Regions from separate parts of the Homo sapiens genome. Here region 1 is linked to region 2. Evidence: fine-mapped expression QTL. A gene starts in region 2. The other region holds a variant in brackets. All regions are shown on one strand. Distances are from middle to middle.

What was found.
Region 1: its variant is fine-mapped to the expression of KIT in fibroblasts (GTEx, PIP above 0.99).

Annotation. Positions count from the first base shown.
Region 1 is chr4:54,497,152-54,500,054 of GRCh38, reverse strand. No RefSeq gene overlaps it. Among named protein-coding and RNA genes, the nearest start is that of LINC02260, 110 kb to the left of the region's middle. The variant T/C (reference allele first, on the strand shown) is at 1,313.
Region 2 is chr4:54,656,410-54,659,312 of GRCh38, reverse strand. KIT (KIT proto-oncogene, receptor tyrosine kinase) reads right to left here and starts at 1,356. Exons shown (of 21, transcript NM_000222.3): 1 at 1,232-1,356. The coding sequence starts at 1,298. RefSeq lists a silencer at 1,777-2,071.

The DNA.
Region 1 (2,903 bases), 160 kb after region 2:
TGTGGAGGTGAAAAGGAGAGTCAAATAATCATAGCAGACCAAAACGAACAGTAGTTATGGCTGCCTGGATCAAGGAAGAAAATACCAAGGATCAAAACCTCAATACTAAGGGAGGGACCTAGAGGTTAATGCGGTGCAGCCCTGTCACTTTGTTTCTGCAGACAGAGAACCTGAGCTTCTGTCACTGGCTCAGACAAATTGCCTGGGGAAAATTGTTCAACTCCTGGAGCCTTTGTTCCCTACTTTAAGAACTGACAGTTCAGTAGCTTGCCTACCTCTCTGGAATGATGTTAGAGTTAAAGGGCTGACAACCCACTGGGTGTAGTCCTCTCTACCTACGTTTCTAGTGTTCAGAGAAGTTACTGGGGCGATAGGAATTTTTTTGAACACCCATTGGTGCCTAAGGAACCCTTTGTCAGAAGCTAAGTATTCCATGCACCCAGCCTCTATAATGTTCATGAGTCACTTTAATAACACTTTATTTTCCTGCTTAAGTTTTAATTGCTCAGAAAATAGCAAAGAGGCACCGTGAAAGCCACAACCCAAATGACTTTGCAGGGCCTCCTGCTGTGCCCTCCAAGTCTGTTTTCAAGATTTATCTCCACTCAGAATTAACTAGAAGGAGGAGGAGGGGGAGGAAATGCTAAATAGCTGCATCATGTTAAAACAAATTAAGTTCAGTTTCCACAATGGCAAAATACACTGGGCGCATACTAACCAGGCAGTTTATTGCAGTGACTTTTCAGGGGTTGTTTTTGTTTTTGTCTGTAAAAGTATTTCCAGATCTAACATCCTCGCAGTCTTTTGTCAAGAAATCCACGTTTGGCTGAGACACATTGACTGGGCATATTCTACTTACTAATTCAGAAAGGCCAGCTATTCCTATGTGCCACGGAAAAGCCAAAGGGTGGTAATGAGAGTAGGAGGTAATTTGGGCAGGGGGTTGAAGTACATGTTCTCCCCAGAATACACTCTGGGGCACTGGGTTAGCATGCTGATGAGAGATAACATGAGACCCGATTAACAGCAATTGAGTAGACATTCTGGAATGCTACCACTCAGGCTCCTGTCAGACCAGGACCCTACATTCATTCCAAGTGAATGGGTGCCACCATGCTGGCTTTCCATTTCACAGTGGGAATCTGGGGAGGAAAAGCAGCAGCACATGAAGCATATCTATCTTGTAGACACAAGCCTGTAAGAAAAAAGTGACCCATCACCCTTTATTCCCAGGGGACTTGTATGCAACTGCACTGTAAAAGCCCTGCCCTTGCTGGAGACTGGCATTCCAGAGCTCTGTTTCATGCTGTGA[T/C]TGACATGTGGTGAATGCCAACATTTTAGAAGTCATGTGTCATTCATTCAATGACACACAACTCATCTACAGGACCAGAGCTTCTGCTCCCTACTCTAGTCTGTACCTGCAGTGTACCCAATCTCCCATTCGTGCTATCCTGGACATCATATTCTGGAGGGACATTTTTTTTTTTGCAGTCCATCCATCATTCATTCAAGAAATGTTTCTTGAATGTGCCTGTCAGGTGTTCAGCCCTGTTCTGAGCCCTAGGGACACAGTGGTAAATAAATTTAAAACAAATTTTTTTTTAAAACGAAACAAACAAACAAAAACCTTACCTGTCTTTGTGGCGTACATTCCAGTGGATATCTGTGGCTTTTGCCCCTCCAGCATCCCTTCCTATGGTGCCAGCACTTCACTGTTTTTTGGGGGAGCCATGCTCAAACCCTGTGATGCAAGGGAGGCTGATGGAATTCTTGGTGGTGGGGGCAGGGATGAACTCAAGGCCTGTACAATCAAGGTGCTGCAACCCCTTGCTCACAAGATTGGTTAATTGCTACAACTGTTGGGGAAAAGTTCCACTGTGTCAGCTGGGGGAGGGGGTCCTAGGCTGGTGAGACATTAAGTCTAGACTGTTGCTGGTCACTTGTGTCACCACGTGGGGAGAGGCTGCCTGAGAATGAAGCAGACATAGAGGAAAGCCGAGCTGAGAGATAGAGAAAGAGAGAGATGGGGAGAACTCCTGGCATGCTTTTCAGGCCCACAAACCAATAGACCCCATTTCCTATGCGACCAGTTTGAGTTGGGTTTCTAGTATTTGCAGCTGGAAAGATTTCTTGACAAATACAGGTGCTAGGTGAAGTTATAAAACAGGAGCTGGTTTCTGTGTCTTTCTCTCTTCCTCAGTACTGCATACCCTCTCCCAAGGAAACCCTGCACAACCATGTCAAGGCAAGCCCGGGACAGTCCACCAACCTCTTGCCTTCCTTTAACCTTTTGACTGGGAAGGTGCAAACAAATTTTCCTCTTTTTTCATGAAAAGATGACACAGCTCAGGGGAAGCTGTCAGGCTTTGGAGACAATGGAGCCAGCTTTGACCCTATCTCTGCAGCACACCAGCTGTGGCCTTGGGCAAGTCACATCACCCCAAGCTTCAGTTTCAGCATCCATCAAATGGGAATAGGGGCCCTGTTCTCACAGTGTCACATGTAGAAGGAGCAACACAAAACATGAGTCTCCTTTTTCTTCTGTCATTTCTCCCTGATTAAAATAGTTACCATGTTGGACAGTGTTGTGACAAATTGATCGGGCCACTGAGAATCCATGAGAGGGAAAAACTGGAGTTGGGGGTCCCTAAGCAAAAGTAGATGCTTAGCTAAAAATCTTTACGAAGGATTGACATTTGTTTCAGGCCCCTTCCAATGCTGGGCCTAGAAGTGTGTACCAGCTTATACTCCCCACCACCCTGAAAGTTAGTGCATGAAAGGTTCATGACAGGACGGGCACAGTGTCTCATGCCTATAATCCTAGCACTTTGGGAGGCCAAAGACAGGCAGATCACTTGAGGCTAGGAGTTCGAGACCAGCCTGGCCAACATGGCAAAACTCCA
Region 2 (2,903 bases):
GGAACGGGAGGCAGGAATCTGACCAAGGGGCTCCAGCAACCTGCAAATCCTTCACCTAAGACCCAGTTCCCGCGCGGATATACCTGGATTTCTGTTATAGCTTTAAGAACTGAGTAGGATTTGCAGAAAGTTCCACGCCATCTCCCACCCCACCCCCAGGCAGCCCTGAAGTATAGAAGTCCCGGGGGCGGGGAGGCGGGCGGTCACGAATCTCAAAAATTTCCGAAGAAAACAGGACCTGCGAATACAGGTCGCAGACACCGGGAACTAGGGGCTTTCAGAACCCGCCAGGCAGGCCGGGCACTCTGGCCGGCGTGCTAGGCGGTTGGAGTCAGGGAACGCAGAGTCCCAGCACGCTGTCCCTTGCCTTCCCGGAGCAGGCGGCAAACACAGCCTCCAGCCGCCCCGGGGCGCGCGGCAGGAATGAAACGGCGCCGCGGCAGAAAGGGGCGAGCACGGGATGTACGAAAGCAAAAAGTCTGCAACCTAGCGGCTGCTTTCCACACGCCCTGCCCAAGTTGTCCCTGTCGCCACCACCTCCAGGCTCGCGGGAGTCCGGCCCCACAACAGCCCCACGCCGCGCACTCCCAGCGCAAAAGCCTAACCCGGAGGCGGGGAAACGCCGCAGCCTTCGATTGGTCTCCACGGGTGGCGCCGCGAGCAGAGGCGGCAGCGGGTCGGTCCCCAGCTCTGGGCACAAAGAGCGCCTGCGGTTGGAAGGCAGTAGCCGCAGAGCAGAGAAAGGGCTCTCTAACTTTGCCCTCAGCGCGGCGGAGAACCTGCAGGCAGGTCCTCCCGGGCGCCGGTCACACACACGCAACTTTTAACAAAAGGAAGCTGCGGCCGCGCCTCGCACGGCAAGAGAAGGCGCTCGGTGCAAACCCCTGAGCCCCCCGCCTCCGCCCCCCGCGCAACGTCGGCACAAAAGCCACCCCAAACTCGCACGGAGCCTGCAGCCTCGCTCACGCCTAACCCCCTCTTGCTGTCCCCATTCCCGAAGAACCCCGGATTCGCGTCCCCCACCACCAGCAGCTGGGGTCTCCTCGCGCAGGTGAGCGAGGCAGGGCGCCGGAGAGTCCGAGGGCCACCTGGAGTCTCCCCGGAGGCTGGAACGCACGGGCACTGAGGGCCCGCAGTCCTCTCTCCGGATGCACCCTGGCGGGTACCACCCTCCCAGGCACAGGCTTCGCCGAGTAGTCGCACGGTCGGGGTGCCAGCCGCGGTGTCCCACCTGTCTGGACGCGAAGCAGTAGGAGCAGAACGCAGAGAAAATCCCAGGCGCCGCGAGCGCCTCTCATCGCGGTAGCTGCGATGGGATCCGAGCTCTGGTCCACGTTCCAGCTCTCGCCCAAGTGCAGCGAGCGCGGCAAAGCCGAGCCCCCAGAGCCGCGAGCGGCGAGCAGCAGCCCCTCCTCCCAGCGCCCTCCCTCTGCGCGCCGGCCACGCCCCTCCTCGCCTCCCCTCCCTCGCGCCCGCCCGGGTCTCGCTTCTTCCCGGCGGCGTCTGGCCCCTGCTCTTTCGACGTGTTAATGCCGGGGGGCCGTGCCCGCCGGGAGGAGGAGGGCGCGCGCGCCCTCTCTCCCCGCTCTTGACTCCGGAGCCCCTTTCTCTCTCCACCTTTCCACCCCTGGGATGTGGACGGCCAGGCTGAGGCCGTTCCCGGACCAAGGAGGTGCTGCCCGCTCGCTTTGTGAAGCTGGGCACCACGCACACGTTAGGGCACGGGCCCGCCACCTGCCAGGTGCTCCCCAGACAATAAAGGTCGACTGCCCGCCCCTCGAGCACGTTCGGGCGGGAGGAGGCTGGACGCCGCTGCTCGTGGAGGTGGCATGGGGATGGGGAGGGGAGCGTTAGGAAATTGAGCCCCGACATTCCCCTCCAGGCCTGTTAGGAGCTCCTGGCACCGCGGTAAAGGCTGAGCCCGGTTTCGCTAATTGTTTCTGCTCAATTTCTCCACCTGCTTCGTAACCTGTAGGAACACAGTGGGTTCCTATTGGTCGGCGTGGCCTCCGCCCAAGAAGCCCCTGCCGGGACTTGTGTGGAGACAGGGGCGATGGAGGGCGCGTGGCGAAGTTTGCTCTGGGAGCCCAGGTTTTCATACACGTTTTCCCCCCTCCCCCCAACGCTGCCAACCCCAGTAATGATTTCTCTGCCTCTGTAACAGACGACAGTTTTAGGGCTAGGGCTCTTAACTGCCCTTGCCGGTCCCAGGAGCAAAATAAAAGTACAATGATTCTCTTAAGCCCGATTTCACTGCCCAGAAAGTGCCTTACCCACAGTCTCATGGTGGATCCTTGAACGGAAAGCAACAACAGTATCTGTATAGGGGTTAATAGTTCTTCCCCACAGCGACTCGTCTTTTCATGCTCACGATAACAGCTTTGTGAGGAGGGTAGAGCAGGTATGTTTATTATTGTAGTGAGGGAAGACCCAGGGCTTGAACACTTATTGGAAGACCTACTCCAAGAAAGATGAGCTTTCCCTATGCATTCTGATAAACTAATAAGACATCCCTCCTGAGAGCTTAAGAATGGAAAAATAAATGGCAGATGCCCATCAGAAAAAGGGATAGAACAGATACACCTAGACTCTTCTCTGAAGTATCATCCAAAATTTACAGTTGCCCAGCTGCCCCACTTCATTTAATATTGAAAGCTCTCCTGTTGTTTAATAGTGTGAGGACCCAGGTTGATGTAAGAAAAATGATTTTTAAAGCTAATCACTTAAAAATTATCAGTGCTAGAGGGTGATCAAATGATCAATGTGTATAATTGCCTCTCTTTAAATGTAAGTATTTACTCACTCAGCAAGCATTTGTTTAGTGTCTGCTGTGAAGCAAGGAGGAGCTAGGTACCAGGAGTACTATTATTAATAGACAGATATGCAGATGTGGCCCCTGCCCT